3 separate regions of the Homo sapiens genome follow, and regions 2 and 3 are each linked to region 1. Evidence: fine-mapped expression QTL. A gene starts in region 1. Each other region holds a variant in brackets. All regions are shown on one strand. Distances are between the middles of the regions.

Region 1 (8,180 bases):
CTGGGCAACATAGTGAGAGTCGGTCTCCACACACACACACACACACACACACACACACACACAAGTAGCCAGGCATGGTAGCATGCACCTGTAGTCCCAGCTGCTCAGGCTTGGGCCCAGGAAGTTGAGGCTGGAGTAAGCTATGACTGCACCACTGGACTCCAGCCTGGGTGTCAGAGCAAGACTCTGTCTCAGAAAACATAAAAATAAAACCATATAACTATGATACCATTTACCCACTTAAAAATTAATAATCATTCCTCAATATGATCCAATATTTAGTCACTGTTCAGTTTTCCAATCAGCTCATGGTCTCTCTTCAGTGAACCTGCTTGGAAATGTTGCTTCTTGAGTTTTCAGTTTCAGGTGTTACTAATTGACTTCTCATTACATCAGATAAGGCTGTAGCTTTCTTCCTCTGCCCACCCGACTCCCAGATCCCTCCCCCACCCTCCCCATATGTGATCCAGGAGTTGAGGCCAGATCACTATTCAGTGTTTACACCCCTTGTTTTCTCTAAAAGCTGTTCACACCTGAGCTGCGGGGTGCAGTGGCTTCCTTTCCCACCCATTGGTGGATGCGTGTGAGCCGTCTTCCCACCCGTTGGTGGATGCGTGTGAGCCGTTTTCCCGCCCGTTGGTGGATGCGTGTGAGCCGTTTTCCCGCCCGTTGGTGGATGCGTGTGAGCCGTTTTCCTGGCTGTTGATGGATACATGTGAGCTGTTTTCCTGCCCGTTGGTGGATGTGTGTGAGCTGTTTTCCTGGCTATTGGTGGGTACACGTGAGCCCTTTTCTCGTCCGTTGGTGGAGGTGTGTGAGCTGTTTTCCTGCTTCTTGGTGGATGCTTGTGAGCCATTTTCTGTGTTTCCTTGCCCAGACCCTGCTGTCTGAATTGCATCCCCATTCTAACCCTGGCTCTTCTTTGCAGCTCCAGATCCTGTTTGCGGGGGAAGCCACACATCGCACGTTTTACTCCACGACGCACGGGGCTCTGCTGTCGGGATGGAGGGAGGCCGACCGCCTCCTCAGTCTGTGGGCCCCGCAGGTGCAGCAGCCCAGGCCCAGGCTCTAGCTGGGCCCAGCCTACTCTGTTCCACCCGTGTCGGGGGTAGGCTGGGACCCTCATTTCTTCTGACAGATTTCAGTCTGGCTTGAAATTTGGGGATGTTAATGAGGGTCCTCTGGTTTTTGGTAACCAGGGCCACCTTCTCAGTTCTTGTGTCTGTTATTGGAGTCTGGCCAGGGTTGACTTGAGCTGAGACACCAGATGCTCACGGAGATGCTGGACACATAAAGCAAGTTACAGCCACAGCTCCCAGAGCCATCTTTCCTGCCTTGAGGCTGTCCTGTCCTTCCTGCCTTGGGGCTCCAGCATCTGCTGCTGTTGTCTTTGTCTTGCTCCGGGCCCAGGTTGCACAGGGCCCTGTGTCTCCAATCCCCACAACCACACATGGCCCCACACTCTGGGTTCCCTGAACTCTGGGTCCTGTAGTTGCTTCTCGTGCCCCTGCATTCTCGTGGCTGCTGCCTGGGATGACAGCATAGCTGACAACCCTCCTCTTGCTCATCAACTGATGCTGCATCAGGCGCCCACTTCACAGGTTCGCAGGGCACTGGGGAGATGAGGGGTGCCCTGCCCTGCCCTGAGGCCGGGGGTTTTCTGGAGGAAGTGAATACATAATAAGGCCTGAAAAGAGAAACGGTGCCCAGCCCATGGGAGCCAGGGAGTGTGTGGGGCGTGGGCAGTGCTGGGGTGAGTGTGCTGGGTGCTGGGGGGTGTTGGGGTGGGGGCAGTGCTGGGGTGCTGGGGGGTGTTGGGGTGTGGGTAGTGTTGGGTGCTGGGGGGTGTTGGGGTGAGTGTGCTGGGTGCCGGGGGATGTTGGGGTGTGGGCAGTGCTGGGGTACCACGTGGTATTGGGGTGAATGTGCTGGGAGTCCAGGCCCCTCTCCGGCCCCTCCACCCCAGCCTGGATCTGCAGGGCTCCTCTCTTCTCACCCTCTGGTCTCTGTTCAAATTGCCCCTCCTAGGATGTTCCCTGACCCCACCCTCCCGAGCCCCAGCCTCCCTCTGTAGCCAGCAGCCCCACCTGCATTTGCTGTGTCACCAGACTGTTCTCTCTGGGGACACCTGCCCATCAGACGCCTGGGAGAGAAATTCAGATTCCACAGGGTTTTATTGTGGTTTTGTGCTCCTAGGACCATGAGGGAATGCAGCTTCCTTAAAGTACAAAAATCTTTATCATTGACATTTAGGGTTTCATCAATTCTGTATCCCAGGGAGAAAGGCAGCAAGACCCAGGCTGCCCCCTCTGGGTGTGAGGGACCGGCTTGGTGAGGAGGGGGCTTGGGGGCATTGACCTAGCAGGAGGCCCTGACTGCCCCCACTCAGCCCAGAAACCACCTGGGAGGCTTCTGTCTTCCACGGAGGGGCCACTCTCTCATGCCCAAAAATATTTACAGCTAGGCGTTAGGGTATTAGGTGGTTTAAGAACATCAGAACCATGGCAATATTTTTGTACTTAGAATTTGAGCATGTTTGGTATTTTCAGTAGCTTGTTTAAAAAATTCCAGTAGAGGCTGGGTGCCATGGCTCATGCCTGTAATTCCAGCACTTTGGGAGGCTGAGGTGGGCAGATCACCTGAGGTCAGAGTTCGAGACTAGCCTGGCCAACATGGTGAAACCCCATCTCTACTAAAAATACAAAAAAAGTAGCCGGGCGTGGTGGTGCGCACCTGTAGTCCCAGCTACTCAGGAGGCTAAGGCAGGAGAACTGCTTGAACCCCGGGAGGCGGAGGTTGCAGTGAGCCAAGATCACGCCACTGCACTCCAGCCTGGCGACAGAGCGAGACTCCGTCTCAAAAATAAAAATTCCGGTAGAGTAATACTCTTGTAACGCAGTGTGCAATTGAGCAGTTGCTGACTGCTGATTTAGAGTTGAAATCCGACTATATTTATGTCTAGTCTTGGACAGTGGAGAATATTTCAGCCTCATTAATTAATCGGTTTAATTTAGCAGAACTGCAGTCAGTATTTGGAAACAGTTTGTTATATTAAACCCTGAAGTACTTGAGGCTGCGCGCGGTGGCTCATGCCTGTAATCCCAGCATTTTGGGAGGCCGAGACAGGTAGATCACTTGAGGTCAGGAGTTGGAGACCAGCCTGGCCAACATGGTGGAACTCCATCTCTACTAAAAATACAAAATCAGCCGGCGTGGTGGCAGGCGCCAGTAATCCCAGCTACTCCGGAGGCTGAGGTGGGAGAATCCCTTGAACTCAGGAGTTGGAGGTTGCAATGAGCGAGATCGTGCCACTGCACTCTTGGGCAACAGAGCGGAGACTCCGTCTCAAACAAAACAAAACAAACAAAAACCCTGAAGTACTTAAAAAGAAAATGAAGAGATTACATTTATAAGGTAAATTTAAAGTATTTGAGAGATTTTAACCAAATTGTAAAAAGAGATTGCTAAATTTTTACACTTATACTCAGGATATGCTTAAGGGAGAACGATGATTTTTAATATTTAATGAATGTTAATAAATCTGCGAATTACTTAAACCCACAAAACCCAGGAACCTCCCCGTCCCCCCGGGTCTCCTCGCAGTCCCGCCCCGACGCTCGACCCACCATTCGTCCCTCCCTCTGGGCCCGGGCCCCGCCCACTCCGGGCTTCGCCGGAGGCGGAGGCAACGTCGTGCGCACGCGCAGGCCGTGGTGCGGCCCCTTGGAGCGCCGGAAGCCCGCAGTGCCGGAGGCCCGCAGCGCCGGAACCTCAGAGGCGGGTCGCAGCGGCGCAGAGGAGGTCAGCTGCGGGAGCGTTTCCGGGGACGGTGCCGCCATGAGATTGACCCCGCGCGCGCTGTGCAGCGCCGCCCAGGCCGCCTGGCGGGAGAACTTCCCCCTGTGCGGTCGCGACGTGGCGCGCTGGTTCCCGGGCCACATGGCCAAGGGTGAGGCACGGCGGGGAGGGGCAAGGTCATGCCTACGGCCGCGGCGCCTCTGCTTCCCTCCCACCCCGGTTTCGGCCGTCGCCTGCTTCTCCCGGTCGTTCTGGGCTGGCCCCGCCCCTCCTCCCTTGTCTCCCCTCCTTCCCCGCTCTCACCCGCTCCCGGAGCCGCCGGGACCCCTTCCCCTGCGCAGCTGCGGGAGAGGCCCGTTCCCGCGAGTGCCCCCGCGGCGCAGCCTCGGACCCAGGGCCTGCTTGACCTCCTACCTCTGGCCCGCCGCCCCTGTCCTCTGTTCCCAGCAAGTTCCTTCTGCCCTTTTAATCCCCCGAAGCCTCCGTTTCCACATGTTCTTGACAAGATAGACTTTTCTGAGTCTTTTGGGGACTAAATGAAACAGTGGGTATGAAGGCACCTGTTCAGTTTTAACTGGTATCTTGAGTCGTTCTCCTGCTTAACGTCTTTGGTAATTCTTACTGTTTGTCACAATTCGGCCCCAAGAAGACCTCTGGGGCCAGCCCAGCCCGTCTAGGTGTTGTGATGGCCACTCCTGCGTCGGCTCCGCGTGTACTGGGGGCCGAGGGGGAAGAAGGGCCCGTGTGGGTGACTGAGGCTGTGTCCTCGGTCTTCGGATAACACTGGAGGGGAAGAAAGCTGGAAGCTTTGTTATCTTGGTTGTGTGTGGTATTCCTGGTTAGGGGACTATCGTCATCATCCCCGCGAGGTAGCAGGGGCCTAATGAGCCAGTGTTACTCTGTGTTATAGCCCAGATTAAGACCCGTGGAAGGGCCCGGCCCGGTGGCTCACGCTTGTAATCCCAGTACTTTGGGAGGCCGAGGTGGGCAGATCACGAGGTCAGGACATCGAGACTATCCTGGCCAGCATGGTGAAACCGTGTCTCTACTAAAAATACAAAAAATTAGCCCGGCATGGTGGCGCGTCCCTGTAGTCCCAGCTACTCGGGAGGCTGAGGCAGGAGAATTGCTTGAACCTGGCAGGCGGAGGTTGCAGTGAGCCGAGATCGTGCCACTGCACTCCAGCCTGGGTGACAGAGCAAGACTCCGTCTCAGAAAACAAAAAAGCGACCCATGCACGTTAAATATTCCACCCAGAGTCAGCCATGAGTCAGGTGGTGAAGACCGCATCTGGCTTTTGACACATGGCCCACCCTGTGGCAGGGTGCCTCCCAGTCTCCCACTCCGAGGGTGCGGACCTTGGAGGAGGCGCTCAGCGGATGTTATCTGTTACCATTACTTAGTACGCTTCCCTCAGATATAGTCTTTTTAGGTTATTTATGGTGGCGTGTCATTCTGGACGGTTCAGCTTGAATCGATCACTCTAGAAAGGTTGTGAGCCCCTTCGCTGAGGCGTCCTTCTGTTTTCCAGGGCTGAAGAAGATGCAGAGCAGCCTGAAGCTGGTGGACTGTATCATCGAGGTCCACGATGCCCGGATATCCTTTCACAGAGCAGGGGAGGCCCCTCTGCCTGAAGTCATATTACACATTAGAATTACCTGGGGAGGCTTTTAAAAATATGAATTGCGAGGCCCCTTTCTAGACCAGTTAATCAGAATCTGTGATGTGGGGTCCAGACTGCGTGTCTTTGAAACTTCATTGTTAATACATATATCTGCGTCACTCAAGCCTGACGGTACGGTGCAGCAGTGGAATCCTCTAGATGGGCTATGAAACTGTTTAAATGTTCCTGCCAACTGGGGCTTTTCTCCTGTACTTGAGGAATGAATTGGCAGGATGTGATGATTCGTTCACTGATGGCAAGAAAAAAAGTTGGTTGGCTGGTAAAGCTTTGGAGGAATTTTTACCTTAATTTTGCCACATCCCACTTTCAGGCCGCAACCCTCTGTTTCAGGAAACCCTTGGGCTTAAGCCTCACTTGCTGGTCCTCAACAAGATGGACTTGGCGGATCTTACAGAGCAGCAGGTAAAGGCCTTTCTCTCAGACGCCTTCAGCAGTGTGGCTGTGTTTTCCCGAGGTCGCTTGTTCTAACGGAAGAGTTGCCGGACGCACACTTGTCAGTTTGCCCAGGCAGGCTCTGCTTTAGAAACAGCCCTTTGCTTTGCAGAAGCGTGCCAGCATCGTTTCTCATATGGCGTGCCCCCATCTAATGTGTGGTTCGTGACCTGGACACCCAGGGAGTGCACGTCTCCTGTGGGAAGTGGCCAGGTTGTGCTGCCAGAGCCCGAGTGGTCAGTGAGTGCGCATTGTGGGCAGCAAGCCACCCAGGTGCCGAGGCAAGAGACCGAGGACACGAGCTTTTCCAGTGTAATAAAACATATGAAATAAGAATAGTTATACTAGATATAGGTCATAGATATGATTGTATATGAATATTACTAATCATTAGTTTGTAGCAATTACTCTTCATTCCAATATTATTATAATTCTTGCTCTATAATCATAACCTAGGAAAAACCAGGCCATACAGAGATAGGAGCTGAGGGGACATAGTGAGACGTGACAAGTGTGTGAGCCTTCTGTTATGCCCAGACAGGGCCACCAGAGGACTCCTTGGTCTAGCGGTAACGCCAGTGTCTGGGAAGACGCCCGTTGCCAAGCCGACTGTGGTCTAGCGGTAGCGTCAGTGTCAAGGAAAAGCACCCGCTACTTAGCAGACCGGGAAAGGGAGTCTCCCTTTCCCCAGGGGAGTTTAGAGAAGACTCTACTCCTCCACCTCTTGTGGAGGACCTGACATCAGTCAGGCCTGCCCGCAGTTATCCGGAGGCTTAACTGTCTCCCTGTGATGCTGTGCTTCAGTGGTCACGCTCCTAGTCCGCCTTGATGTTCCATCTTGTACACCTGGCTCTGTCTTTTAGATAGCAGTAGCAAAATTAGTGAAAGTACCGAAAGTCTCTGATAAGCAGAAATAATGGCGTAAGCTGTCTCTCTTTCTCCCTCTCTCTCTGCCTTGGCTGCCAGGCAGGGAAGGGCCCCTTGTCCAGTGGACACATGACCCACGTGACCTTACCTGTCATTGGAGATGGCTCACACTCCTTACCCTGCCCCTTTTGCTTTGTATCCAATAAATATTAGTGCAGCCAGACATTTGGGGCCACTACCGGTCTCTGCATCTTGGTGGTAGTGGTCCCCCAGGCACAGCTGTCTTTTCTTTTATCTCTTTGTCTTGTGTCTTATTTTCTTTTTTTTTTTTTGAGGCAGAGTCTTGCTCTGTCGCCCAGGCTGGAGTGCAGTGGCGCAATCTTGACTCACTGCAAGCTCTGCCTCCCGGGTTCACGCCATTCTCCTGCCTCAGCCTCCTGAGCAGCCGGGACTACAGGCGCCCGCCACCATGCCCGGCTAATTTTTTGTATCTTTAGTAGAGACGGGGTTTCACTGTGTTAGCCAGGATGGTCTCAATCTCCTGACCTCATGATCCGCCCGCCTCGGCCTCCCAAAGTGCTGGTATTACAGGCGTGAGTCACTGCGTCCAGCCTGTTTTTTTTTTTTTTTTAAATCATCGCAAGTGTTTTCACTAGTTGGTACTTTTACGTCATATCAGTGGCAACTCCTGCCTTTGAAAATGTGACTTTTTGTAGACTGGTGGGTGGCCGTCTAGTATAGGGCACAGCAGTGTCTGACCTGGTCAGAGAAAGGCCAGTGCTTCTGAAGAATCGGGAGAGAGGTAGACTTGCCCCTGGGTGGCCCTGCCTTCTGCCTCCCTGAGCAGGGACACCCAAGTACATTTACTACCCAGAGTGTGTGGCTTCAGGTGTGTGTCTTATGTTTGATCTCTCCATCCGTGTCATCTTCGTGGACAGCTAAATAAAACCAGCTGAATCAGTGAAGGACTTGTTGATTTAAACATCAGTCATACTTTAGGTCAGATGATTAACAGCACTGATGTTTAGAAATATGATACTGCTTTGCACTAGTTTCACTGCATGTTAAGGCCAGTGAATTCAAAAATTATCTGGGCGTGGTGGCGCATGCCTGTAATCCCTGCTACTTGGGAGGCTGAGGCATGAGAATCGCTTGAACCAGGGAGGCGGAGGTTGCAGGGAGCCGAGATTGTGCTACTGCACTCCAGCCTGGGTGACAGAGCCAAGACTCCAGTAAAAAAAGTAACATAGAAATGTTTTGTGTCTTTCAGAAAATTATGCAACACTTAGAAGGAGAAGGCCTAAAAAATGTCATTTTTACCAACTGTGTAAAGGATGAAAATGTCAAGCAGGTAGGCTTTTCGTCTGTGCTCTCTCTGACGCTTCTGCTTCAGTAGGTT
Region 2 (8,180 bases), 120 kb after region 1:
ACTTCAACAAGCAGAACAATATATTCAGAATTGGTAGACCAGGAGGAAGAGAGGGAGAAAGGGACACAAAACATATTCAAAGAAATGATGGGGAAAAACCTCCCAAGCTTAGGGAAATAAATTGAAATCAAGATTCAGGAAACTCAGATGACACCAAATAGGAAAAATCCAGAGACACACATTTGAGACATATTATAATCAAATTGTTAAAAATTTAGACAAAGAGAGAATTTTGAAAGCAACAAGGGACAGCAAATAGTTACACAAAAGGGATGCCCACCGTGTAAGATATCCATGGATTTTCTTTTTCCAGAAACTTTATAGGCCAGGAAGGAGCTGGATGATATATTCAAAATCCTAAAAGAAAAAAAAATTACTGCCCAAGAATACCATACCTAGTAATACTATCTTTCAAAAATGAAGGCAAGAATAAGACTTTCTCAAACAAACAAAAGTCGAGGAAGGATATCACCATTAGATGTGCCTTACAAGAAATTCTAGGAATTCTTCAAGCTGGATTAAAAGGATACTAATTGATAGGATAAAAATACAAAAATAAAAAACTTACTGGTAAAAGTAAGTACATTGTCAGATTCAAACTAGTAATCAGGCAATGGTCTTCTGTAAAACAATTCTATCTCTAGTACAAAGGTTAAAAGATAAAGCAATTAAAAACAACCATAGCTACAATAATCTGTTGAGAGATACAAATGATGAAATGATATAAATTGTGACATCAAAAGCATAAAATATGAGGTGGGGGAGTAGAAATGTAGAGTTTATTTATGCAATCAAAATTAAGCTTTTATCAGCTTAAAAATAGCTGGTTATAAACATAAGATGTTTTCTGCAAGCCTCAAGTAACCACAAAGCAAAAATCTGTAGTAGATACACAAAAGATAAGAAGAAAATAGTCAAAGCATATCACTATAGACAAGCGTCAAACCATCTAAGATCAAGAACAAGACAAGGATGCCCACTCTCACCACTTCCATTCAACGTAGTACTACTGTCAGTCTTAGCTAGAGTAATTAGGCAAGAGCAAGAAATAAAAGGCATCCAGATTGGAAAGGAGGAAATAATACGGTTCCTGTTTGCAGATGACATGATATTACGTACAGAAAACCATAAAGACTACATCAAAACTACTAGAACTGATAAATAATTGCATTGAGGGAATTGTTTTGTACCCGTTTATGGTGGGAGTTACATAAAATATAATATATACTACAATAAATATAATAAATATACTCTATATTATAAATATAATATATATAATACATATAATAGCATTATATTTCATAGATCTGTACACCAAAGGAAAAGAAGTCTATTTTACATATGATGATTTTGAAAAATAAAAGAACGGAAAGTAGTATGGAGACTTCTGTTTAATGATAGTAGATGCGTGTCATTTTTATTATACTCTCCTCTTTTGAAACTAGCCAAGAATAACAATGGAACAAAAAAGAAAATTCCAAAATTAGTGCAGCAGGGAAATTGCCATGAGCACCATCACATCCTGAATCTTAGCTTTGAACAACTTGTCTGCAACAAATGAAGAGAATGCAGAGACCCCAGATATGCCTTTCGAGGCCTTTGGTAGGTCACATATTTCTCCAAATTCATGTCAGACCCAACAGTGCATGATTAAAACAGTGAGCAACCAATGCAAGGAGGTGTCTGAGAAGGTGCTCCTGCCACGGTCATGAGGACACATGTGTCAGCTCCTCAACTGTTCCAAAAAGCATGAGAGATGTGAAGCAGAGCCACACAAGACCTTCAGGAAGGCAGGACCACTCCACCCACCCCACCTGCAACAGGCCACTCATCCCAGCCTAGTCTGGATTAGGAGAGAGTTCTGGGAGTTTCCTTGCACAGAAATAACTGATACCATGTTTATGAATTAGAGCAGTCATTGTTGCAACATATCCGTTCTCCACAAATTGATCTATAGATTGAGTGCGATTCCAGACATTTCAGTAGTTTTTGGTAGAAATGGACAAGATGACTTTAAAATGTAGGTAGAAATGCAAAGGGCCAAGAATATCCCCTAGGAGAGGAACAAAGTTGGAAGAGTTACACTATCAGATATCAAGAGTAATTTTTAAAATGTTCTAAATAAGACAGTGTGGGATTGGTGCAAGGAGGGACAAATAAACCAATGGAGCCACACAAAGTGCAGACTCACACATGCATAGAAGCTTGACTTATGACTTGTGCTTACCTTACGTTACAGCAATTTCACTTTTAGATATATAAACAACAGAGGTAAGCAACGCAGGTGCATTAAAAGGCAGGCACTGAAATTTCATGACAGCATTATTTGCATAGTGAAAAAGTAGAAAAAACAGTATTGTTTGGGGTATAATTGATGCATCATGCTATACTCACAGAGTGGAATAATATATAGCAGTGAAAAAGAATGAACTACTTCTACAAATAACACAAACATGAAGTTAAGTTCACAAACATGAGTGAATCACACAAACATGAAGCTAAGTAAAAGAATTAAGACACAAAGAATGCATACTGTGTGATTCAGCGAATGTTACATAAAGTCTAAAAGTGGCCAGGACTATTCTGTGGTATTAAAAGGTAGGATAAACTCCCCTAGGACTAGGGGAGGAGTTGGTGACAGCCAGTGATGTTTTTCCGAGGGCGGGTGATGTTTCTACTCTGAAAGCCCTTCGGCATGGCCACACTCATGTTGTGATAACCCATCAGGCTATACACTTAGCATACTTTTCCTTATGTATTTGATAGTATTGAGATTACAACAGCTGCAGTATTTATAGATAAATGCACTAAACAGGACACAGAGAGGTAGTAGACAATTATAAAAGGCATAATTTATGAAGAAGATGTAACAGCCACAAATCTCTATTTACCAAAAACATGGAACTAAATATTTGAACTGAGATCTACTAGAAATAAAAAAAGAACTAGACCATAGTTCTATGACAGTGGCAACCTTCAAAACACAGTTTCAGAATTGGACAAATTTAGTACAAGAAGCAAATATGGAAAAAACTGAATAATGTAATCATTAAACTTACTTTTTAAACAGAAGATAACGTTTTGTTTGTGTGTTCATGTCCCAATTACAAAAATCAATTTTGTACTTGGGAACAAAGTAAACCTTATCAAATTATAAAAAGTAAACACTTTACAGTCCACATTCTTTGATCTTAAGTCAACAAAGTTAGAAATAGTTAAAAGGTAACTTCCCCAATCTTCATTAATTAGAAATTGAAATCAGATTACTGAAAAAAGTAAGAACTTTTGAAACTGATGTACACTGGTGATGTCCTCATATCTATTATTGGAAGTGCCTTATTGCCAGCTTTTCACATTGTGCTGTCATCATCATTTAACGGACTCTTTTGCAAATTGATCTAACTCTTGCAACATATTATCATTCGATTTCATACAAAGGTTATTCCCTGGCATGCACTTGAGGAGTCTGGGCTTTGTGGGAGTTGTTTCTGGGCATATATTAACCTACAAAATATACGACACAGAAGATTGTCCTTGTAAATAGAGTTTTAAGTTTAAAAAATACAAACTATGGAGTGTTAGACAGGACTCTATTTCCTAGGCTATGAATACAACTGACATATCTTCTGCATATGAAACATCCAAATGAGATAAATATATTAAAAGCACCACAACTTCCACATGATTTAAATCCAGAAAATAATTCCCCAGGTTTCTGAAATGCTTCTCACAGTCTTGGCAATTTCAAGATGCCACTGGAGTATTATAGGATGTCTCCATGCCATGATTGTCCTTAAAATCTCAGAAATAGATGCTAGAAAATTACTTTAAAAGATGTTGCATAAGTGGAAGTTACTGATTCTCTCCTTATCTAGTGCTCTGTGGAGGGACACAATCAAGGAGGAACTTCTGCCTCTGAAAATTACAGGCGATCCCACAGCATTCCTGGAGCTTGGAAGGGCTGGAAAGACAGGGTCTGCCGAAGACTGAGGCTAAATTAGAACCTCAGGGAATGCTGT[C/A]CTCCTCCACACTCCATAATCTCACTGACAAGCATCATATAAAAATATCAGTGGAATAGAGCTGGTGGAGCTGCAAGAGAGAGCCTCTCTCCCAGGAGCAAAGAGAGAGCGAAAGCGATGCATGCAGACAAACTCGAAGTATGTCTAGGGGAATCAGGAGCTGCTGGTACATGTTCACACAGAAACAACAAACTTGCGACTCAGCCTAACCCCCATTAAGATGAGCACAAGCCCCCACACATAAAGAACTAGCAAAATAAAATGTGTGCTCTTCTCAAAGCATAAAACACTTTTGACCTTAGTATCTACTGTCTTACACAAGATGTCCAGTATGCAAAAAAGCAAGGAAAAACAGAAGACATAAAATAATCATTACTGCTAGACTCGGATATGACACAGGTGGTGGAACTATCAGAAAGGGAATTTAAAACAACTCAGTAATATGCTAATGGTCCTAATGAAAAAGACAGACCATACGCAAGATCAGGTAGGTCATTTTAGCAGAGAGCTGGAAACTATAAACATGAACGTCATGGGAACAATAGAAATTTTAAACCACAGCACTAGAGAAGAAAAATGCCTTCAAAAGGCTCACCAGGAAACTGGCACAGCTCAGGAAAGACTAACTTGAAGATAGAGCAATAGAAACTGTATGACTCCATTTACATGAAATAGCCAGAATAGGTCAATTCCTAAAGACAGAACACAGACTGGTGATTGCCAGGGACTAGGAGCAGGGAGAAATGGAGAGAAGCTGCTTGATGGGTATGAGGTTTTATTCTGGAATGATGAGGATGTTTTGGAAGCAGAGGTGGCGGTTGCACAATATTGTGTATGTACGAAATGCCACTGAGTTGTTCATTTTAAAACGATCCATTTTCTGTTAAATGAATTTCACCTCAATACATTTTAAAAAATAATAAATGGGAAAATTAATGTAATTTTCTGTATTAACAGGCTGAATAAGAAAAATTATATTGTCTTTTCAAAAAATACTGTAAAAACAATAAAATTCATCCTCCATTCCCACTAAAAATTCACAGCATTCTAGGAATAGAAAAGAATGTCCCTACCTTAACAAAGGGCAACTACAAAAACTTACGGCTAACATCATACTTGAAGATAAGTGGGTAAATGCTTTCCCCCAAGACTGGAAAAAATGTCAACAGTTCCTCTCGCACCACTTGTATTAGTGTGCTCTCACGCTGCTAATAAAGACATACCTGACACTGGCTAATTTATAAAGGAAAGAGGTTTAATGGACTCACAGTTTCACATGGCTGCGGAAGCCTCATGGTCATGGTGGAAGGCGATGGAGGAGCAAAGTCACATCTCACATGGTGGTAGGTAAGAGAGCTTGTGCAGGGGAACTCCCATCTGTAAAACCATCAGATCTCGTGAGATTTATTCACTACTGTGAGAACAGTCTGGGGGAAACTGCCCCATGATTCAGTGATCTCCACCTGGCCCTGCCCTTGACATGTGGGGATTATTACAATTCAAGGAGAGAGTTGGGTGGGGACACAGCCAAACCATATCTCCACTCCTATTCAATACTGTGCAGTAAGTCAAGAAAAAGAAATAAAAGGCAGGCAGATTGGAGAAGAAGAAATAAATCTGTTTTCATTCATAGGTTATATAATTATCTATATGGAAATCCCTACATATTTACCCCCAAAAGCTACTGGAAACTAATAAATGGGTTTAGCAAGACTAGAATATAAAGTCAATGTACAAAAGGCAATTGTATTCCTATGTACCAGCAATGAATAACTAAATAGGAAACTAGAATTTTTAAATAAAATTAAATGTTTAAAAAACATTTACAATAGCAACATATGAAGCACTTAGATATTAATTTAATAAAATATATGCAGGATATGTCATGTTCATGGGTTGGAAAAGATTCTTGTTAGTGCATCAATTGTCCCCAGTTTTATCTATAAATTCAATGCTATTCTAATCAATATCTTAGCAATCAGATATTGATCAAATAATTCTAAAATCTATGCAGAAAGGCAAAGGAACTAGAATGGTCAAAACAACTATGAAAAAGAACAAAGTTGTAGGACTCTCGTTACCTAATTTATTCCCGCTGCCCAATTTAAAGATGTAAACTGGGTAGCAAGAGTCCTTCAGCTTGAGGTACAGTAAAAAAGAGTATGATTTTGGTGAAAGACAAAGACAAGTTAATGGGTCAGGATAGACAGCCCAGAAATAGACCCAGACAAATATACCTGTTTTTACATAGGTGCAGTAGCAACTTGATGGACAAAGGGTAGTCTTTTCAACAAACAGTGCTGGGAAAATCGAGTGTCCACATGCAAAACAAATAAACCTTGACATATACGTCATACTTCATTAAAAATTAAACTTTCCCAGTGCTTTGGGAGACCAAGGTGGGAATATCGCTTGAGGCCAGGAGTTCCAGACCAGCCTGGGCTACATAGTGAGACCCTGTCTCTAAAAAAAAAAAAAATTAACCAGGCTTGGTGGCACGCACCTGTAGTCCCAGCTACTTGGGAGGCTGAGGTGGGAGGATTGCTTGAGCCTAGGAGATTGAGGCTGCAGTGAGCCAAGATCTCACCTCTGCACTCCAGCCTGGGCAATAGAGGGAGACTGTGTCTCAAACACACACACACACAACACCTGGTTTTTCTTTTTTTAAAAAAAAATTAACAAGATAAAAGTAGGGAAGGCAGGAGACCTTTGAGCCCGAGAGTTTCTATCCTGAACTTTGATTGTAAGGATGTTTTAATTCAGGTGACATTTGGACATACGTATGCAACTTTAACACTGAATTATGCCAACATTCATGACTTTTCTTTAAATTCTCTTAAGTTATTTAATATCGTATCACGTTTTTACACAGAGTAGTTGAACTGTCTGACTTTTTTGCACTTTAATTTTACATTAATGGTTTTATTCTAGATTAGTTTCTCCATTTAAATTATCCAATGAAGATTTGGTTCCTTAGTTTTTTTGTGGGGGGTTCATATCCATTATTTTTAACTCATTATGACTTCTGCCAATGTGAATTTTCCTTTGTGGCCAATATTTCTTCCAATCCTATATTTAAAGGAAAAGCTTTATTAGACAAATTAAATTTAACAGAGTTTAATTAGGCCAGAATAGGCTCAGAGAGACTGCAGTGGAGCCACGTGGTGGAAGATTTATGAACAGAAAAGAAATGTAGAGAAAATGAAAATGAGGTCTAGAAACAGCTGGATTGTTTACAGCTCTGTGTTTGCCGTATTTGAACACAGTTTGAACAGTTGCCTGCTCTCAATTTCTGTACAGCCTCGTCACCGATGGTCTGCATACCACACTCTAGGGAGCACTGTGCTAGGCCATACAGTAAGTTCAGTAAACTGTACAAAACTTATATACACACCACATTCTCTGACAACAATGGAATTAAATTAGACATCAGTAAAAGTATAAACTAACAATCTTCATAAAATTATTTTATTTTTAGCTGTGGTATTGGCATTGTAAGTAGTTTGAGAGAGATTAGAGAGAGTAAGGTCTTAACTCTAAAGATGCAACAAAATTAACTGCATTTTGACCATTGTTGAATTTGAGTGTTAGCTATGTGGGGGTGCTTTATCTTTCTCTCACTGTTTTTTCACATTTGAAATTTTCTCTAATTAAAAAATAATTTCTATATATTTTGAAAAATACCCCATTTGCACATGAATCATGAATCAAGGGATGGAGATTAAGAAAGCACACAGAGCTCAGTGAATAATGGAACCGTTAAATATCAGCACTTGGGGAAGCAGTAACAGAAGATCTTACAGGTAAATATATAATCATAAGTCCTTGTACTAAGAAAGACGGACTGAAAATTAATAAGCCAAATGTCCAACTGAAACTAAGCAGCATACTGGACCCAAAGAAGGGCAGAAATCATGAAATACAAAATAATGAGGAAATAGAGAGGAACACAACCAAGGCTTGCTATTTGAAAAAGATTAATAAAGTAGAGAAACTGCTTCTGAGACTACTTAAGCACAAAAAAGCACAAATAAACAATGTTTGGGATGTCAAAGGAACATAATGATAAATACAACCATGACTGTAAACATAAGACAATACTAAAACAAATTTATGTGAATAAATTTGACAGCTTACAAGAAATCACAATTCCTAGAAAAA
Region 3 (8,180 bases), 26 kb after region 1:
CTTCCTGTGTCCATGTGTTCTCATTGTTCAATTCCCACCTATGAGTGAGAATATGCGGTGTTTGGTTTTTTGTTCTTGCGATAGTTTACTGAGAATGATGATTTCCAATTTCATCCATGTCCCTACAAAGGACATGAACTCATCATTTTTTATGGCTGCATAGTATTCCATGGTGTATATGTGCCACATTTTCTTAATCCAGTCTATTATTGTTGGACATTTGGGTTGGTTCCAAGTCTTTGCTATTGTGAATAATGCCGCAATAAACACATGTGTGCATGTGTCTTTATAGCAGCATGATTTATAGTCCTTTGGGTATATACCCAGTAATGGGATAGCTGGGTCAAATGGTATTTCCAGTTCTAGATCCCTGAGGAATCGCCACACTGACTTCCACAATGGTTGAACTAGTTTACAGTCCCACCAACAGTGTAAAAGTGTTCCTATTTCTCCACATCCTCTCCAGCACCTGTTGTTTCCTGACTTTTTAATGATTGCCATTCTAACTGGTGTGAGATGGTATCTCATTGTGGTTTTGATTTGCATTTCTCTGATGGCCAGCAGCACATCAAAAAGCTTATCCACCATGATCAAGTGGGCTTCATCCCTGGGATGCAAGGCTGGTTCAATATACGCAAATCAATAAATGTAATCCAGCATATAAACAGAACCAAAGACAAAAACCACATGATTATCTCAATAGATGCAGAAAAGGCCTTTGACAAAATTCAACAACCTTCATGCTAAAAACTCTCAATAAATTAGGTATTGATGGGACGTATCTCAAAATAATAAGAGCTATCTATGACAAACCCACAGCCAATATCATACTGAATGGGCAAAAACTGGAAGCATTCCCTTTGAAAACTGGCACAAGACAGGGATGCCCTCTCTCACCACTCCTATTCAACATAGTGTTGGAAGTTCTGGCCAGGGCAGTTAGGCAGGAGAAGGAAATAAAGGGTATTCAATTAGGAAAAGAGGAAATCAAATTGTCCCTGTTTGCAGATGACATGATTGTATATCTAGAAAACCCCATTGTCTCAGCCCAAAATCTCCTTAAGCTGATAAGCAACTTCAGCAAAGTCTCAGGATACAAAATCAATGTACAAAAATCACCAGCATTCTTATACACCAATAACAGACAAACAGCCAAATCATGAGTGAACTCCCATTCACAATTGCTTCAAAGAGAATAAAATACCTAGGAATCCAACTTACAAGGGACGTGAAGGACCTCTTCAAGGAGAACTACAAACCACTGCTCAATGAAATAAAAGAGAATACAAACAAATGGAAGAACATTCCATGCTCATTGGTAGGAAGAATCAATATTGTGAAAATGGCCATACTGCCCAAGGTAATTTATAGATTCAATGCCATCCCCATCAAGCTACCAATGACTTTCTTTTTTTCTTTTTTTTGAGATGGCATCTCACTCTGTCGCCCAGCCAGGCTACAGTGCAGTGGCACAATCTCAGCCCACTGCAGCCTCCACCTCCTGGGTTCAAGCGATTCTCCCGCCTTAGCCTCCCAAGTAGCTGGGATTACAAGCATGTGCCACCACACCTGGCTAATTTTTGTATTTTTAGTAGAGACAGGGTTTCACCATATTGGTGAACAGGCTGGTGTCGAACTCCTGACCTCAAGTGATCCGTCCACCTTGGCCTCCCAAAGTTCTGGGATTACAGGCGTGAGCCACCATGCCTGGCTGGATGCCATGTATTTTGAGTTTCACCTTGTTAGGTGATGGATATCTACATTCCTGTAAAAATTCTTGAGCTTTGTTGTGGGACAGTTAGATTATTGGAAACAGTCCGGTCCTTTCAGGAGTTCTTCCCATTGGCAGGTCTCGGGGGTGGTCCGGGGCGCCTCCTCCAGGCTTGCTCCTCTCTCCTGGGACAGCTTTTTTGGAGCACCAGGGCACCCTTGAGGCTGCTGATTCAGAGCTCATGCTTGGTGCCTCCGAGAAGTTAGATTTAGAACCTGTGTTACTCAGGGTTCTGATGCTCCTATGGGCTCTGAGCTCATGTCTTGCTTTGCTGGGCCTTGGGGTGAGTCCTCTGTTACCGGCTCATGCTGTGACCAGGTCCGAGGGCACCAGCCTCCTCAAGGTTGAGCCTGCCCTCGTGGGAGCCACGAGACAGGTTCCCCTCACCCCTGGCTGTCAGGAAGGTTGGGAGAGTGTTGGGTCTGGGTTAGTCGGGCTCCCAAGGCTTAGGGTGGTGTTTGTCCCTGTGAGTGGCTGCTCTGTGCTGGCCTTTCCCTCCAGGCCTCTCTGCCCAGAGCCTGCACTGTGAGGAGTCAGAGTGCCCGTTACAATCACTGGGTGACGCTTAGCAGCGGTGGGTGCCTAGTCAGCCCATGCTGGTCCCTGTGCTAGGAAAACACCGCTCAAACACCCAGCCGGGTGGAGAGGATGCAGGTGTACTGGCTGCCTGGAAGTTACCGAGTGCCATCCTTAGCAGCAAACAGAGTATGTTTGCAGATGGTCTGCTGTGCTCCTCTTTTAGTTTCCAGGACCTGGGCCTGCACAGAGGCCTGCCTGTCCTACCCCGGATAGAGTGGATGAAGCCTGTGTGTGTGAACAGCTGTTACTCCTCCCGCTGCGGCAAGGGCTCCGGTGGTGGGAGCCGCCCCCCATGCTGCTGGCCGTGGCCACACAGGACGAAGCTCAGGGATGATTCTTAGATAGTGGCTCTCCCCCGGGGCCCAGCACCGGTCACCTGCAGTCTCATCTTGGTCATCCACAGCGCCGCAGTCACTGTCACCCACAGGAGGTGCCTGGCCGTGGCCTTTGTGGCATTCAGGAGGAAGGGCCCGGCCTGGCTGGCCGCGCGGTGTCAGTGCTGGGCCCCCTGGTGCTGACCTGCAGCCTATGTGCAGGTACGTGCAGCACTACGGCCTGGGCAGTGCCTGTGACAACGTAGAGCGCGTGCTGAAGAGTGTGGCTGTGAAGCTGGGGAAGACGCAGAAGGTGAAGGTGCTCACGGGCACGGGTGAGTGAGGTCGCTGATGCGGGCACCGGAGCCTCACCCCATCACCCTGGGGGACCCCGGCCATCCCTGGAGGAGGCAGGGAGGAGAGGAACGTGTCAAGGAGCATGCGCCGGGTCTTCTGGGAATGGGTTTCAGGGCAGGGGAGCTACAGAAAGTTCTGGAGAGGAAGGGCTTGTAGTCCAGGCTTCCGAGGGTGAGACCAGCCCTGCCGCGTATTGGGCAGTGCTAGGTGGACACCTGCAGGCCTCACATGCCTGGCCTTGGAGGCTCCGGGCAGCGTAGCTCAAGCTGTTTTCTTTCTGAGTGTGATCCCGTTCCCTGGGCTTCCCTGATGCCATCATGGAGCCTCTTAGGGCTGGTCCCTCAGGTGGGTAAG[G/T]GCTGGGCCTGTCCTGCTGTGAAGGCTCCTTCCTCACTGAACCCTCCCGTCCCCCAGGTAACGTGAACATTATTCAGCCTAACTATCCTGCGGCAGCCCGTGACTTCCTGCAGACTTTCCGCCGTGGGCTGCTGGGTTCCGTGATGCTGGACCTCGACGTCCTGCGGGGCCACCCCCCGGCTGAGACTTTGCCCTGAACTTGTCCGGGTAGGGAGGGCCGGAGGCATGTGGCCTCCCAGACCTCCTGACCTGGGTGGTTGAGGCTCAAGACAGCTCACCCGGTCCAGAAGCTCCATGCTGGTCACTAGGGTGCTGTGCTCTCTGGCGCCCCACAGCCTGGCCAGCTCCAGGGACCCCAGTTGCAGGGCCCAAGCAGGTGGGAGTGGACACCAGGCTTCCCAGTGGACGTCCCTGAGCAGCTCCGCATGCTTGGTTCTCCCGGAGCTTCCTGCTCAGGCCTCTTGAGAAATGGATGCTGTCTCAGAAGGAGTTAAAGCTATAACCTGTAACCTTTAAAATCTCCAGTTAAAGGGCCTGTTTCTTACTGGCCTGTGAGGTGCACCGTAGTGCCTTGGGCCTGTGTGTTAAAGCTGCTCTCACCAGTGAAACCTAAGAAATGAGCAGGTTGGCAGCTAGGGTTTGTGTTGGAGGCTTTCGGTCCAGTGTCTTGCAGTCCTACAACAAGTGAGAGGCTTGCTGCCATCAGAGAGGTTTATTTCACACTTACAGGCACACACAGACACAGACCAGAGACTCCCAGCAGCAGAGCCCAAGCACTGGCTTCGCCCCTCAGTGCCCTGGGGCATGTTCAGGGCAGGGTTGAGGGGGACGCCCTGCACATGGCTTTGCTGTGCAATGACTGGAAGGCCGCCCGGCATGGGCAGTAGAGACCCCTGGCCTCTGAGCACCTTCTAGCTCACGGGTAGTGGGATTCTGCATTAGTGGGGCTGAGAGATGTGGGGGCCCCTCCAGCCCCATTATAGTGCACCTGAAGGGGTCCACAGCCTGTGTCCTAGAAGAGGGAAGAGGAAGGAAGGTGGGTGGGGCTGGTAGTATGGACTAAGGTGCTGCAGGACCTGGGGCCAGGGACATCCTGTGCAGAAGCTCCGGCTGCCTCTTTGCGGTGGTGGCCTGACCGTCCCACAGCAGCCTCCACCAGGGCCCTGGTGCTCAGTGGCCCCTCTTTGCTGGCTGGCTGCCTCTGCTGCCCCATACCCCACACACTCATCAGCCTGAAGTTAGCCCCTGAGTGCCACCTGCATCGTGCCATAACCCTGACCGCCTGGGGCAGGAAGTATTCAGGTTGGCTGTGTCAGATGCTAATGTGCTGAATCAACAGTCATTGCAGATCACGAAGTGTCCATCATAACTGGAACATTCCATCAGCTTGCAGTGCTGTGGTGTGTGAGGGTCTGGTGCAGCTCAGCCCATTTTCCAGGTGGGCATCTGCAAAGTTGAGGGGGCTCCGGTGGGTCTCTCTGCTGTGAGGAGACTCAGACCACCCCCTGCCTCCTGGGGGAAATGTCAGAAGGGCTTCTCTGCCTATGAGGATCTGGGGCAGGGCTTGGCCTTGGCCTGCTGGTCTTGGAGGCGTTGAGCTTGGTCTGGAAGGGGTGGAGGAGCGTCTGGGCTCACTGGGCCAGGGGCATTGCTGGCAGTGTGGACGGGAGGCTGCAGGGCGCTGCCTCCTGTGGCTTAGTGCCCTGGAGCTAGAGAGCAGTGCTTGGTTGAGTCCTGCCAACAGCTTCCAGATCCTCACCCAGGCCAGAACCCAGGCCAGCTGGGGAAGGCAGAGGCTGGCAGGGCCCGTGGTGGGTGCTGGTCTTGACTTTGGTGTCCACTGAGTCCCGAGGCTCAGGCCCAGGAGGGATGCAGTCCGGCTGAGGGCGAGGCTGTCCCCAGGACATGGAGAGGGTGAGATCCCAAGGCCACGGCGGGGGGCAGGGAGAACCCCTCCTACCCTGGATGAGTGGGTGACTGGAGAGCTAGAGAACGTGGCAGACCCAAGACCTCTCAGTGCTGAGCCCATGGAGGATGCCCCAGGCTGGCGGGACTGGGAAGCAGAGGGCTGGTCTTAACACAGGTGTGTCCAGTGCTGGAGGCAAGTCCTTGTCGTGACTGTCCAGCGCCACTCCATGTCTCTCCTGTCCTTGGATGTTGGGGGGCTCAGCCTCTTGCATGGGTGTCCTGCTGGGCGCTGGGCCCCGCCACTGGCCCCCTGCTTGCTTTGGGGTCTGAGTTAGCTCCTGGCTCCACTGAGCAGGCCGTCAGCTGCCAGCCCACCACGCGGATACCCAGGCCCTGTTCCGAGGCCTGGAACAGCTGCTTCCGAAGAAGGGGCTGCCTTCAGGGAAATGCGTGCACCGTGCAGCCTGTGCTGTGCCCAGGGAGGCCTCTTCAGCGGGATTGGCAGTTGCTGTGCCCTGAGAACAGGCAGAACTGTGTGATCCCTGAATGTGAACCTGAAGTTCAAAGGACTTGGAAAGCTCTGGAATGTGTTGGTTTTTCCCCCCCAAAATGGGTCCTAAGGAGGGTAAAGTGACTTGTTTCAAGTTGTTGGAGCAAAGTGGGTCTCTCACGGATCTCGGCCTGAGGGTGTGGGGGAGAAGGCCTGGACAGCCCCTCAGGGCAGGGTGTGTTTTCCCACCAGCCGCAGAGAGCCAGGATGGACGTTCCTCGGACGGACGGTTTTCCTGCTTGGGAATGTTCCTGGGCTGTGAGATCCACTCTTCTGGGCAGGTGGTTAGCACCTAACGTTTTTCCCTCACTTCCCCCCAAATTCTTAAGTCCTTTGGTCCATTTCACTGCTTCTTTTGGGGAGGGTCAGATTCCTCAGGGGCTCAGTGGCAGAACCAGCCTGATGTCGCCTCCCTGCCCGTGAGTCACCACGGCCCCTGGGCAGGCGAGGGGAGCCGGGGTGGCTTGGGTTCCTGGCCTTGGCACCTCCCTTTGGGCGGCGATGGAGCGTGGCTGGGCGGTTGGTACAGGAGCCACAGGCAGCTGCCTTTTTGGCTGAGGGGACCCTAACATCCTGGAGTGGGTGGGGCAGGGCCCATGGTCTCCTCTAGGTGGGAGGTGGCAGGCTGAGGCGGCGTGGGCAGGACGGTGGATGGCGGGTCCACAGGGACAGCCAGCAGCTCCTGCACCCAGTGGGGCTCCAAGACCGTGGGCAAGGGAGGAAGGGGGAGCCCAGGCCGGAGGATCCTGGGGGATGGCGCGGGCCGGGGGCCAGATGTGGTCCCCGAGCCCAGCCAGGCCTAGGGCCGCAGCAGCCCCAGGGCTCCGAGGGCGCCGCCCAGCACGAGACAGAGACGCGGGCCGCGCGTGGGTCCAGCGCCCGAAGTCCACGCCCGGTAGCTGTAGATGCCGGGGCCTGTCCCGTTGCCTCCGGGCACCCCGTCCTCCTCGTCCTCCAGGCCGCGTTCCCCGGGTCCCGCGGCCCTTCTCCAGCCCGAGCCCGCCGCCAGGCCCGCGGCCGCTCCCGCCGCCGCCCCGGCTGCCGCCCCGGCGGCAGCCACGCGCAGGGAGGAGCCCGGGGCACCGTAGCGCTGCGCCGGCCTCACGCGCACCCTCGAGGCCCCGCGCGCACCCCCGCGGACCCCTCCCCGGGCACTGCCCCGCGCACCTCCGCGGCCGCCCTTGGCTGCGCCGCTGTCGCAGAGGAAGGCGGCCGCCAGTAGCAGAGCCCAGCACGTTGCGGGTGCCCAGTTCATCTTCGTGGGGCTAAACCTGCGGGAAGAGAGGGAAAGGGCCCTTAGTTTCCATGGAGATCGGGTGCCCAGGGGCGGAGGGCTCAAGGCTGGAGAGCAGAGGGACCCCCATCTTTTGTGGGATCAGGGTGCCCCCAGCATCTTGGAGGCCCACTGAGGCCTGGGGGGGCGCGGTTTAACCTCTAGCATCAGGGACTTAGGCCTGGGGGAGGCGCTGGGAAGTGGCAGGTGGGGCAGGAGGGTTCTGCACCTGAAGGTTGTGCACCTGGATTGGGGGTGTAGAAGCGGGGCAGGAGCGTTCAGGCCTCTGGGGGCGTCCAGGCCCGGGCGGGGGAGCAAGCCTGGGGGAGGGAGCTCTGCACGCGTTGCTGGGATGTGGGGGGCGGGGGGAGGCGGCATGGGGGGAGGGGCGTTGTGTTTGGAGGACGCGGTAGCCGGGACCAAGAGCTGGCTCAGATCAGGGTCTGGAACGGGGACGGGCCGTGCCTGGGCCTGGTCCCCACCTTTGGGGCCAAAGCCTGGGTGCGGGCCTTGCGGATGCTGCGGAGGACAAGCGGCTGCTGACATCGTGCGGACTCCGCCCCAGCAGACCCGTGCCCCAGGGGCAGTCCCTCCCGCGCGCGCCCGGCGCTCAATGCCGTCCCCGGCCGCCTAGTTCAGCAGCTGGCTGGGGGCGGGACGGGGTCGAGTTGCGGGGCCGCGTCCAGACACGGCTGTGCGGGCGACAGCTGCATCCCCTCCCCGCGCCGCCCCTCGCTCCCGGCCCCGTACCCGCCCCAGCCTCCCGGCCTTACCCGCCACGGGCCTCGGTTGGAACCGCGCGCTGGAGTATCCGTCCCTGAGGCCGCGGCCGAGCGGGAAGGAGCGGGCGGGCGGCGGCGCGGACCCTCAGCCGGAGCGCGGAGCCGCGGCGCCTGGGTTTTGCGCGAGGCCTCCGCCCTGGGATTGGGGCGGGCAGTCGCGGAGGCGCATCCCTGGTGAGCCGGTGGGAGGGGAAAAGGATGTCGCGTCCCCCATCCTTGCGGCCTCCCGTCCTCCGTCACCAGCCCCCTCCGTCTCCTGCATCACAAGGCCCCGTCCCCGCGGTCCCCCGCG

What was found. PIP is the estimated chance that this variant, and not a neighbour inherited with it, causes the effect.
Region 2: its variant is fine-mapped to the expression of MTG1 in adrenal gland (GTEx, PIP above 0.99). The same link has a PIP of 0.9 or more in transverse colon.
Region 3: its variant is fine-mapped to the expression of MTG1 in whole blood (TOPMed, PIP above 0.99).

Annotation. Positions count from the first base shown.
Region 1 is chr10:133,390,384-133,398,563 of GRCh38, forward strand. MTG1 (mitochondrial ribosome associated GTPase 1) reads left to right here and starts at 3,774. Exons shown (of 11, transcript NM_138384.4): 1 at 3,774-3,949; 2 at 5,330-5,394; 3 at 5,780-5,884; 4 at 8,052-8,132. The coding sequence starts at 3,838. It overlaps PAOX (polyamine oxidase), which reads left to right. Exons shown (of 7, transcript NM_152911.4): 7 at 929-1,311. The coding sequence ends at 1,072. RefSeq lists silencers at 3,566-3,915, 3,976-4,175 and an enhancer at 4,500-5,454.
Region 2 is chr10:133,508,933-133,517,112 of GRCh38, forward strand. It overlaps LOC105378575 (a long non-coding RNA gene), which reads right to left. Exons shown (of 5, transcript XR_946512.3): 3 at 5,288-5,396; 4 at 281-357. Among named protein-coding and RNA genes, the nearest start is that of CYP2E1, 14 kb to the right of the region's middle. The variant C/A (reference allele first, on the strand shown) is at 4,020.
Region 3 is chr10:133,416,594-133,424,773 of GRCh38, forward strand. It overlaps MTG1 (mitochondrial ribosome associated GTPase 1), which reads left to right. Exons shown (of 11, transcript NM_138384.4): 10 at 2,887-2,999; 11 at 3,433-5,927. The coding sequence ends at 3,572. It overlaps SPRN (shadow of prion protein), which reads right to left and starts at 8,032. Exons shown (of 2, transcript NM_001391974.1): 1 at 7,880-8,032; 2 at 4,073-7,104. The coding sequence starts at 7,088. The coding sequence ends at 6,633. It overlaps LOC124902564 (a long non-coding RNA gene), which reads left to right and starts at 7,977. Exons shown (of 2, transcript XR_007062397.1): 1 at 7,977-8,180. RefSeq lists enhancers at 6,410-7,029, 7,848-8,180. The variant G/T (reference allele first, on the strand shown) is at 3,376.